Regions from separate parts of the Homo sapiens genome. Here region 1 is reported to be linked to region 2. Evidence: microRNA targets listed by miRTarBase, many of them from high-throughput screens and not tested one by one. Region 2 holds a microRNA gene; the other region holds the end of a gene's coding sequence.
The links. The annotated mature microRNA hsa-miR-6889-5p reads UCGGGGAGUCUGGGGUCCGGAAU and lies in region 2 at 4,934-4,956, shown strand. An mRNA with a match to its seed (bases 2 to 7 or 8) in the 3' UTR can be bound and repressed. Matches are read on the target gene's strand: a 7mer-m8 pairs with bases 2 to 8, a 7mer-A1 pairs with bases 2 to 7 and ends in A, and an 8mer does both.

Region 1: the mRNA of TULP1 is a reported target of hsa-miR-6889-5p. Seed matches in the 3' UTR shown: 7mer-m8 at 2,412-2,418 and 7mer-m8 at 2,350-2,356.

The regions. Positions count from the first base shown.
Region 1 is chr6:35,495,634-35,498,633 of GRCh38, forward strand. It overlaps TULP1 (TUB like protein 1), which reads right to left. Exons shown (of 15, transcript NM_003322.6): 15 at 2,241-2,827. The coding sequence ends at 2,694. TEAD3 (TEA domain transcription factor 3) reads right to left here and starts at 1,446. Exons shown (of 13, transcript NM_003214.4): 1 at 1,265-1,446. LOC124901309 (a long non-coding RNA gene) reads left to right here and starts at 2,500. Exons shown (of 2, transcript XR_007059561.1): 1 at 2,500-2,574. RefSeq lists enhancers at 1-475, 1,422-2,352, 2,353-3,000 and silencers at 1,254-1,303, 1,484-1,613, 1,624-1,953.
Region 2 is chr22:41,249,785-41,257,978 of GRCh38, reverse strand. It overlaps MIR6889 (microRNA 6889), which reads left to right and starts at 4,929; the gene lies at 4,929-4,987. RANGAP1 (Ran GTPase activating protein 1) reads left to right here. Exons shown (of 16, transcript NM_002883.4): 7 at 1-31; 8 at 1,155-1,268; 9 at 1,689-1,788; 10 at 1,874-1,958; 11 at 3,485-3,671; 12 at 4,988-5,107; 13 at 6,870-6,972; 14 at 8,162-8,194. RefSeq lists enhancers at 515-1,058, 1,059-1,602.

The sequences.
Region 1 (3,000 bases), not on the chromosome of region 2:
AGGGGGGCTACAGGAGTCTAGAAGGGAGAGGACATAATTCCCCCAAATCTCCAACTTTTGAGGAAAGCCTCCCCTCCTTGCCCCAGGTGGCCCCAGCACTGGGGTGGAACATGTGTACAGAGAACCAGGCCACAAGAGACTGGATACGCAGAGCCGCTATGGGCACCAGCCCCTCTGAGCTGTGTCCAGCCCCTACCCCTATGCCCTGTTCTTCCGGACAACAAGTCCAGGCCTGACCTGGTTCTGCCCCTACCTGGAAAGAGGGAAGACACAGAAGAAGACAGCCCCTGAGAAGTCCGCCCCAAGGCCTCCTTCCCCCTCGCACTGAAAGAATCTCTCAGCCCTGGATCAGGGCCCCTCACCAGGAAAGTTGACAGAGCGGGGTCTCAATGACACTGCCCCAGGGCCCAGCTGGGCTGGAAAACAGATCCAGACCAGCGCTCCCAGCCCTCCCTCCCCTAGCAGGAATAAAGGGCATGACAGACAATGGTGGGGACCGGGGTAGGAAGCGGGAGACCAGCCACCCTCAAACCTTGTCAAGTCTAAACAAGGGCCCTGAGCAAGTGTGGGGAAGAAAAGGCCCCAAATCCAGACCCCTCCGAGCCAAGCTCACAGCGCTCAGGGCTGGAACTCTGAATCAGCACCCCGACGCAGGCGGCAGAACTGAAGGGAACGTGAGCCCCTCCCTGCCTCTCAGGGGACACACGGCCGGGGCGCGCGGCTTTGGTCCCAGACACCCTCCACAACCCAGCGCAGCCGCGGCACCGCGCGCAGAAACCGGCCTGGGCGCTGGGAGGCCGGGCCCGAGGCCTGCGTGGAGCTGAGGCCGGGCGGGCTCCGGGAGCGCGCGGGCCGGGAGTCCAAAGGGCGGCGGGGCCCGGGACTGGGCGCCCCGGATATGAGCTCCAGGGTGGCAGGCAGGCCCTCCACACTGTGCGGCCCCCGGATCCCCGCCCCGACCCCCCAAGCACGGACGGCGGGACAGGCGACGGCACAGGGGACACGGTCTCCCCGGCTTCCCCACCTTCCCGGACCAACTCGTCCCCGTCGCGGGGGGGTGGGGAGGGCGGGGGGCGGGGCTTCCCGGAGAGATTTTCCCCCTTCCCTCTAAACTTCCCGGCACCCCGATCCGGGGCTCCAGCTCCGGCTGGACAATAGCTCGGGGACCCAGTCCCCCTCGAGTGTCGCCCCCCCAGCCAGCCCAGCCGACCAACCAAACCACCTCTCCCGAGCGGGGCCTCCTCCCGGCGTCCGCCCGGCTTACCTGGTCCGAGCTCGCGGGGGCGCTCCGGCCGGGCCGCTCCGCCGGGCCCGAGGGAGCCGCAAGGGGGGCCGGGGAAGGGGGGTCGTGGGGAGGGGGCTGGCCGGAATGTGCGGAATGAGCCGGGCTGGAGCGGGAGGCGCCGAGCGCGGAGGAGGGAGCGAGCGGGACGGAAAGTTTGTGTTGAGGAGCCGGGGCGGGGGTGGGGGCTGCGGGAAGGAGGGGGCGGGGCGCGCAGGGGGCGGTGCTGGCCGGGAGGGGCGGGGCCGTCCAGCCGCGCTCGGGCCGCCTACCCCGCGGCCTCGCGACCCGGCCACCCCGGCTGGCGCGCGCCTGGGCGCCCCGCTCCTCGCCCGCCCGTGCGGAGCTGCCTTCCTCCCCCTGCGCTCCGGGCCTCGCCCCGCTCCCGGGCACCCGCCGGAATTTGGGGCTCCGGCCTGGGGCGGGGCCGAGGGCGGAGCCCTCGCCTCGCGGGCAGGGCTCCCGTCGGTGCCGGGGGCCGTGGGTGCCGCGTCACGAGGAGCCCGGCAGAGCCGGAGCGCACGGGCCCCGGGGCTCCCGGCCCCTCCACCCTAGTCCCGAGCCGCCAAGGCGGAGCGTACCCTCCAGCTCGCGGGCCTGCCCCCCACTCCCGGGGCCCCAGACCCGGCTCCGCCCTGGCGGCTGCGCCCGCCCTGCCGGGACCCGGTTTGTCTGGTTCTCCCCGCGTGGCTAGTTTCTCGAATTTCTTCTCCCTTTCTCCCTCTTCCCCGACCTCCGGGACCCTCCCTTTCGCCCCGGCTCCCCGGGCCCCCACGGGGGGCGTCTCGACGCTGTGCGGCCGCCGAGTTTCGGTAGGACCCGCGACGGGCGCGGGGAGGGGACGCGGGAGCGCCCGGGGCCTGGGCAGGAGTGGGACGGGGGTTGAGACTTCCAGCTCGCGCCTCGGACGCCTCCTGCCGCCTCGTTCTCCGCACGCGCTGAGGAACCACCGCTCCGCTTGGCCAAGGACGCGGCTTTATTGGGGATGTGGGTGCCTGGCCCTCGTCCCCCATCACCTACCCCCTCCTCCTAGCCCGCCCCAGCTCCTCGGAGCCCTAGCGCGGTCCCGGGGAGAGGGGAGGTTAAAACAACAATGACTACTGCTCCCGGACAGGAAGTGACTGGGGCGCGGGGAGGAGGGGGGCACAGCGGCGCAGGCGAGCTCCGAGACCAGATGTGCGGCTCCAACTCCAGATGTTCTTCATCTCCGTCCTACCCGCCGTCCGGGCTCCTCCTGCCTCGGCCTGTGCCAGGCTGGGGAGAGGACGGAGGTCACCGAGAGGCAGTGAGAGGTCAGCCCCGACACAGGAGCAGTTTTCCGCGGGAGCTTTGCTGGAGGGACCCTGCCAGCCTCCACTGAATCCTTTCCCCCACGCTGACGGGCTCTGGGGGCGCTGAGGGGCTGCTGGGGTCACTCGCAGGCCAGCTTCCCGTCGAAACTGGAGAGGGCGATGGCGAAGGCCTGCAGGGCGCACAGCGGGTACCGGTAGTCTAGGGTGAAGGCGTCCTCCGCCACGCGGCCGAACTGCAGCACGATATAGTCGGCTATGGACACAAGACGGGGTGGGGGCGGCCCGAGACCTCCTTGGACCCCCATCCTGGCAGACAGTGCCCTCAACCTTGGGGGCAGTCTGTCCCTTGCCTTGGGGCTCCAACCCTCAGCCACCATCTCAGTTACTCAACACCCATCCCTTCTTCTATCTCACTCCACACCAGCA
Region 2 (8,194 bases):
CACTGAGAAGGGCGCCGTGGCCATGGCCGAGGTGAGGCGAGTGTGGCAGAGCCAGTTGGGCCCCGCCAGATAGAGGCTGGCTGCTGTCTTTCCAGGGAAGCTGGGGCTCCGTTTAGCAGGGACTCCTCTACCCCCTGCCTGCCCCCTGGGTGTGTGCCCCATGGCTCCAGCTCTTTGAACATGTCCTGAACAGGGTTGCAGGTCCCAAGGTAACCCACGCCCTCCTCGGGCAGCTCTGATTCTTCATGCCACCTTCTCCTGAGCCGCCTCTGCAGCCCCCAGCGGCTGCCGCTGGTTTGTTCTCAGGCTGCACAGGAGCAGACTGCTCCCCACATCTGTTTTCCTGGTTGATTTGTTCAGCAGCTGTTGTTTGTTTTGTTATTTATTATCACTTTTTGAGACGGAATCTTACTGTTGCCCAAGCTGGTCTTGAACTTCTGGGATCAAGTGATCCTCCCACCTCAGCCTTCTGAGTAGCTGGGATTACAGGTGCAGGCCACTGTGCCTGGCCCAGCAGCTGTTTTTTGAGTCCCCATTTAGTGCTTGGCTTTGTACCAAGTGCAGGCCACATGGGGTTGAGCCAAAGACCCCGCCTTCAGGGAGACCCTAGCTCAAGGAGGGAAGGAAGCTGCCAGTGGTAACAGTGCTGGGCTCTGAACGCAGTGGCTTCTTGGCTGCCAGGGTCCCGTGGCCCCACAGAAGGCTAGTCCGGCTGCCTGTGTGTTAGCAGAGATGTGTGCAGGTGTTGGGGAACACGCCAGAAGGAAGTTCAAATCAGACTTAGGGCAGGCTTCCTGGAAGAGATCACATTTTGGCTAAGTTGTATAGGGCAAGTGGTCTTTCTCTGGACAGAGGGTGGGGGATGGGTGTTTCAGGCAGAGGGATCAGCTTACGTGTGGAAGACCCGGATGCTCAGCAGGAACCTTGCTTGGTTGGTCTCAGGAAGAGTTCTGGCCGTAACATGGGGAGGGGTGGAGGAGGTTTGGCCAGGGGCCCAGAGGCCAACAAGTAGAAGACGGCAAAGCTGGTGACTTGCAGAGGAGGACAGTGTGTGGTGGCTGGCTTGGGATGTGACCGTGTGGGGCCCCCGGGGCTTGCTGAGGGCTGGGGTGTGGTCTGCACCCTCACTCTGGACCCTTGCTTCCCCCTCACAGACCTTGAAGACCTTGCGGCAGGTGGAGGTGATTAATTTTGGGGACTGCCTGGTGCGCTCCAAGGGTGCAGTTGCCATTGCAGATGCCATCCGCGGCGGCCTGCCCAAGCTAAAGGTGCCAGCCTGGACGCCTGACGTCCTCCCTCTGGGGTCTGTGGGTGGTGGGGCGGCTGGGGGCACAGGGGTCTGGTCTGAAGGCAGGTGGGCCTGTGTCCATATCCCAGCTCCTCCACTTCGGGCCCTGTGATGCTGTGTGAGCCTCCACACCCCTCTGAGCCATGGTTTCTTCATTTCTAAAGCGGGAGGCAGGGAGTGGTGTACATCACTGTCTTGTGATTTAAGTAAACACAGTACGTGACTCATCGTTGGCTGCAGGGCATTATTTTTGTTGTTGGTGTTATTCTTCCTGCCCACTTTGCCCCACCTGGAGGACAGAGCCTGCCATATCCTCACTTGGGGAAACTGAGGCTTAGAGTAGAACCTGGTGTCCTGGCCCGGGTTTCTGCCTGCCTCCAACCCTTCCTCTTATTTTCAGGAGCTGAACTTGTCATTCTGTGAAATCAAGAGGGATGCTGCCCTGGCTGTTGCTGAGGCCATGGCAGACAAAGCTGAGCTGGAGAAGCTGGACCTGAATGGTAGTCGGATGGGGGAGGCCTCTGCACAGGTCTGCTAGGCTGGCCCTGGCACCCCGGCTGACTGCTCTTCCCTCCCCTTGAGCAGGCAACACCCTGGGAGAAGAAGGCTGTGAACAGCTTCAGGAGGTGCTGGAGGGCTTCAACATGGCCAAGGTGCTGGCGTCCCTCAGGTAGGGAACTCGGGGTGGCCCCAGAGGTCGGGGTCAGGCCATTCCTTTCTTTCTTTCTTTTGTTCTTGAGATGGAGTCTTGCTCTGTTCCCCAGGCTAAAGTACAGTGGCGTGATCTCGGCTCACTGCAGCTTCCACCTCCTGGGTTCAAGTGATTCCCCTGCCTCAGCCTCCCAAGTAGCTGGGATTACAGGCACCCACCACCACACCTGGCCCCTTTATTTGTTTCTACTTGTATTTATTCAGAAACGTTGGGTGCACTCCTGTTACGTACTAGGTCATACACTAGGCATCAGGGCTATAAGGATGGGACAGTCAGGGCTTCTGTCTCGTGGGGTGGAGACAGAATGAGTTGTCCGTTCAACAGAGGAGCTCGTACGGGCTGAGCGGGGCCACCCTGTAGAGTGGTGGAGTTGGGGAGGCCTCTGAAGGGGTGAGGCCAGATCTCATCCTGATGTGGTGGGGCCTGGGGAGTGATGGGGGTGGGAGGTGGGGGCAGCCAGAAGGGGCTGCACTCGGGATTGTTCTTAAGACGCTGACTCTAGAAAGGAAGAGACCATGGGGCCTGGGGAGTCTACCTGGAGGTGAAGGTGGGTGGCCGGGGAGTGGCCATCTCCTGGATCCAAGTCCGGTTGGGCCATCAGCATCGGGCTCCCTGTGCCCCTCGCATCTCCAAGTCGGCCTCATTCGTGTGTCAGATACTCAGTCGTGTCTCCTCGGTGCTAGGCCCTGAGCTGAGGCTAGGAACTGGGGACTCCGAGGTGGGCTGAACCTCACAGGTCCCACTGTCCCTGGGAAATGGTCCAGCCTTCCTATGGGGCAAGGACACCCCTACTCTTCTTCCTCCCCCACACCTGTAGCTTCCTGAGGTCATGTGGATGTGGGCGCCCCTGCCCTGGCATCTCAACCTGGGCAGTGTTCCTGCCAAGCCCTGGGCTCTAGGTGTGACAAAGCTGTCTTCGTTTTCTGTCTCTCCATGAAACCTGGGGCTCCTTGAGGACAGGGACAAGATCTGATTTTTTTTTGTTTTTTTTTTTTGTTTTTTTGTGGGGGATGGAGTCTCGCTCTGTTGCCCAGGCTAGAGTGCAGTGGCACAATTTCGGCTCACTGCCAGCTCCGCCTCCAGGGTTCACGCCATTCTCCTGCCTCAGCCTCCTGAGTAGCTGGGACCACAGGCGCCCGCCACCACACCCGGCTAATTTTTTGTATTTTTAGTAGAGACGGGGTTTCACCACGTTAGCCAGGATGGTCTCGATCTCCTGACCTCATGATCCACCCACCTCGGCCTCCCAAAGTGCTGGGATTACAGGCATGAGCCACCGCGCCGGGCCGATCTTATTTTTTTGTGTCCACAGCATGGATTTCCCTGGTGATCCACCTGCCCCTGCCCTGGGAGCAGGTGCTCCCACCCCACCAGGCTCTCTCCCTCCTGGCTGAGGTGAGGTCTCTGGGCTCATGGAGCCAGGCCTTAGAGCCAACCTGGGCTGCTGGGTAGAGAGGATCTGCTTCAGCCAGCTCTTTCTGCAGTGATGACGAGGACGAGGAGGAGGAGGAGGAAGGAGAAGAGGAAGAAGAGGAAGCAGAAGAAGAGGAGGAGGAAGATGAGGAAGAGGAGGAAGAAGAGGAGGAGGAGGAGGAAGAAGAGCCTCAGCAGCGAGGGCAGGGAGAGAAGTCAGCCACGCCCTCACGGAAGATTCTGGACCCTAACACTGGGGTGAGTTTCTATCATCTGCCACAATCAGAGCCCTGGTCCTGAGAACGTGAAATCCCGAGGCACTTTCACAATGGGGTAGGGGGTGTCTCCTTAAGCACAGTAGCCACAAACATTTTTTTTTGATTGCATGATATTGAGTAAAAAAAGGAAAATGGTCCCAGTGTAATGATAGTTACCTATATTTCTTTTTTTTTTTTTTGAGATGGAGTCTCACTCTTGTCACCCAGGCTGGAGTGCAGTGGTGTGATCTCGGCTCACTGCAACCTCTGCCTCCCGGGTTCAAGTGATTCTTATGCCTCAGCCTCCCAAACAGCTGGGATTACAGATGCTTGCCACCACGCCTGGCTAATTTTTGTATCTTTAGTAGAGCCGGGGTTTCGCCATATTGGCCAGGCTGGTCTTGAACTTCTGACCTCAGGTGATCCACCCTCCTCGACCTCCCAAAGTGCTGGGATTACAGGCATTGAGCCACCGGGCCCAGCCATAGTTACCTATATTTCTATTTACCCCAATATAAATGTCTATTTACAGGTAGCAGTGCTGCTGCATTATGTATATTATAAGATATGCATAAGGGTTTCTGAAAGAATAAACAAATAAGCATAAATAGAAATTCTGATTTTTTTTTTCCCCACCCACCAGAGGATTGTCTTGGTGACCCTTAGGAACCACTCCCCCATTCCTGGGATGGTGGCTGGGCCATGACCTGGCTTGGGCACTTGGTGTCCCTTGTCTGGCCCGGGGCTGCATCAGGGCTGCCACACCTCCAGTTCATTCATTTGCATTCCCTGTCAGGTTCCTAAGTAAAGCTCCTGGAGAACTTGGCTCTGGACAAGGACTCCCCATGCTTACGCTGAATTGGGCTGCTTCTCTGGTTTATGGAATCAATTAAACAAATGGCTAGGTTCGCCTCAATTCAGTTTTTCCTCTGGGCACCTCTGGTGCTAGCAGGGCTTACCCAGGCTGGACTGTAGTTCTACGGGGACCCACTTTAGCCCCCATGTGCCTCCGTAGTCATTTCTGGGGCACTGCATGTCATGACGAGGATCCACTTGGCCGTAGCAGGTTTTTTGAGTCCCAGGGAGGTAGCTTCCCCCTCACCCCAAAGGCTCCTGGACCAAGAGCCATCCAGGGCCAGCATCTCTGGGTGATATTGATAGATGGGAAATGCAGCTGAGTGGGAGGAAGAATTCTAGACTTTGAGCCTAGATGGGCTGGAGTGAAGGGTGGATGTGCTGGGTGTGGGGATGGGCACAGCTGTGTCGGGGAGTCTGGGGTCCGGAATTCTCCAGAGCCTCTGTGCCCCTACTTCCCAGGAGCCAGCTCCCGTGCTGTCCTCCCCACCTCCTGCAGACGTCTCCACCTTCCTGGCTTTTCCCTCTCCAGAGAAGCTGCTGCGCCTAGGGCCCAAGAGCTCCGTGCTGATAGCCCAGCAGGTAATAACCACCCCTCGACCCCCACGCTGTACGTGCTGTGGCTTCTGGAGCTGTTAGAGAAAAGGGACGAACAGCTCAGAGACCTGGGGGTGCGACGCTGTCAGCTGGGGGCAGGGAGGCTTGGCCTGCCACTGTTACAACACGCGCAAATGTCCAGGGTATTTATAAGCCTCCAGGGGTTGCAAATGTTCCCTCCCCACTCAGCCTACAGAAAGTACAGCCCGCCAGTTCCCATGCTGACTGGGGTTAGGGAATTTCCTTAAGAGCCTTGCATGTGCCCACCCCCTCCTTGGCTTCTCTCTGCGTGTTCCGTCAGCCCAGCTGCTTCGAGAACAACTCTGTTGCCCAGGGCTCCTTTGGAAGTGACGTGCCTATTGCAGGATGGGTGCCCTCACTCCAGCCTCACTTGTTGGTTGGCTCATTCATTCATTCATAGATGATCTTCGGGGCATCCATTTTCTGCCAGGCACTGCATTTGGGCATGATTTTATTTAACCCTCTTGGCAACATGAAATGTAGACTCTGCTGCCCTTACTTTATTTTATTATTTATTTATTTATTTATTTTTTTGAGATGGAGTCTCACTCTGTCGCCCAGGCTGGAGTGCAGTGGCACGATCTCGGCTCACTGCAGACTCTGCCTCCTGGGTTCAAGCAATTCTCCTGCCTCAGCCTCCCGCGCCCAGCTAATTTTTGTATTTTTTAGTAGAGACGAGGTTTCACCACGTTGGCCAGGCTGGTCTCAAACTCCTGACCTCATGATCCACCCACCTCGGCCTCCCAAAGTGCTAGGGTTACAGGCATGAGCCACCGTGCCCGGCCAGCCCTTATTTTGTAGATAAGAAAGCGGAGGCTCGGAGGTTACAGAGAAATAAAATGGGCCCACTCTCAGAGTTGGCTTAACATTTCGGCCAATTGCTTTGTTAGGTTTTGCCTGTATTCTTTGTTTCTTTTAACATGATAAATCAGATGTTGTAAGCCTTTCTGTGGCCTATCACTTTGGTGTAGCACCATTCATCACTTTCTTGTGCCCATAAAACTCTTCTCAGGATTTTTATTGCAATGTGTGGATGTAGCACTTAAAAGCCAGGCACTGTTTCTGACGTTTTTTCCACTTTTCCCTGTTGTGAGGTTGAGGTAAACGTTTCTGCATGTGAGTATTGTCTACATGCTAGATTATTTCTTCAAGTTCAATTACAAGATGGGGACCACTGGATCCCTGAAATGATTTTTTTTTTTTTTTTTCTGAGACAATGTTTTGCTTTGTGACTCCGGCTGGAGTGCAGTGGTGCAATCATGGCTCAGTGCAACCTCGACCTCCTGGGCTCAAGCAGTCCTCCTGCCTCAGCCTCCCAAGTAGCTGAGACTATAGGCACACACCACCAACCTTGGCTAATTTTTTTCCTTTTTGTTGACATGGGGTCTTGCTATGTTGCCTAGGCTGGTCTCAGACTTTTCGCCTCAAGCCATCCTCCCACCTCAGCCTCCCAAAGTGCTGGGGTTACAGGCATGAGCCGCCACACCCGGCTGGGATGATTTTTCATCCTTGTTCATTCACTCATTCATTCCCTCTCTATGCTGCATATGTGCTTGCTGCAGGCCAAATCCAAGCCAGACTCTGAAGGGACAGCATGGGGTAAGGCAGGACCTGTTCTTGCCCGCCAGGGGCCTTTGTACTGCCCAGGCCTCTCCTAGCTAGCGTCAGAGCCCAGGTACCTCTCCACCACGTGCCACAGGCCAACCATTGTCTCTTTTGTCCTCAGACTGACACGTCTGACCCCGAGAAGGTGGTCTCTGCCTTCCTAAAGGTGTCATCTGTGTTCAAGGACGAAGCTACTGTGAGGATGGCAGTGCAGGATGCAGTAGGTAATGTGGGCTGGGTGAGACCTGGGTGCCCTCTGTCCCTTGATGCTCGTGGGCCCCAGGTATCCTTCGTGGTTGCCGTAACTCGTCAGCCCCAGCGCTCTCATGGGAACTGCTCTTTGGCCACCTGAGTTTTTCCTCCGTCAGGGTCCTGCCGTGGAGCCAGCTGGCTGCTCTTCTCCCTGTTTTTCACCACTGAGAAACTGAGGCCTTTCCCAAATCCACACAGCCATGTACAGTTAGAACCCATAGCCCGCTCTAGGAAGTCCAGATAGTCACATCTGCAAGCCCAATGGACGCAGGTCTATCGGGAGGAGGGATGGTGAGAGCCAAGCCCTTGTCCACACCTTGGAGCTTCTGTGCTCACGTCCACTCTACCTGGAGGTTCCTTGCACAGAGGACACCTTTCCCCATAACATTATGGGGGCTTCCTTGGAGCACCAGCCCATATCCCTCCAGCCCTATCACAACCCTCTCCCCACCCTGTCTGTTTCCTCCATTCCAGCACCTGTCACCTTCCACCCTGTTTCCATGTGCTTGACTGAGCCTCCACATCTAACGAAACCTGAGCCAGTTCCGGTTAGGCAGAGGGGAGGAAGGGCCCTGAGGCGAGGGGGACGGTTCCTGGAAAAGATAGAAAGGGGTGGAAGGACATGTGGTGCCTCTTCCCGGCGTGGCGTCGAAGCGGGGAGGGCGGCTCAGTGGGAAATGAGGCTCGGAAGGAGGTGGGGGCCAGACACAAGCCTGCTCCCTGAGGGCCCGCCTGTGGGCATTTTTGGGAACAAGTTGCCCTAGTTCTGTTTCCCAGGAAGCCTAGCACAGTCCCTGCACATCCCCTCACCCTGCCAAAATAACCTGAATCCTCCCCAGTGGTAGCCTGCCTCAGGAAATCTCCATTCCCACGGTGTGAGGTGGGCACAGTGGGTGTCATCCCCATGCCCATTTTATACCTGAGGCCAGGATGGGCAAGGGCCAGAGTGTCACAGCTGGCAGATGGACTGAGCCCATCCCCTGATGCCAACTGCCACTCCCTCTGGTTCCTGTGTCTCTGCCGTCCCTCTCGTGTTCGCCTCTTCGTCAGGGCGAGGAGGCAGGCGAGCCTGTGTCTGCGCGGTGTTGGGGGAACCCTGGGTGCCTTGGCCCAGCCCTCTGCCATAGCCAGCAGCCTGCCCCTGCTGCTTCTGCCCTACAGATGCCCTGATGCAGAAGGCTTTCAACTCCTCGT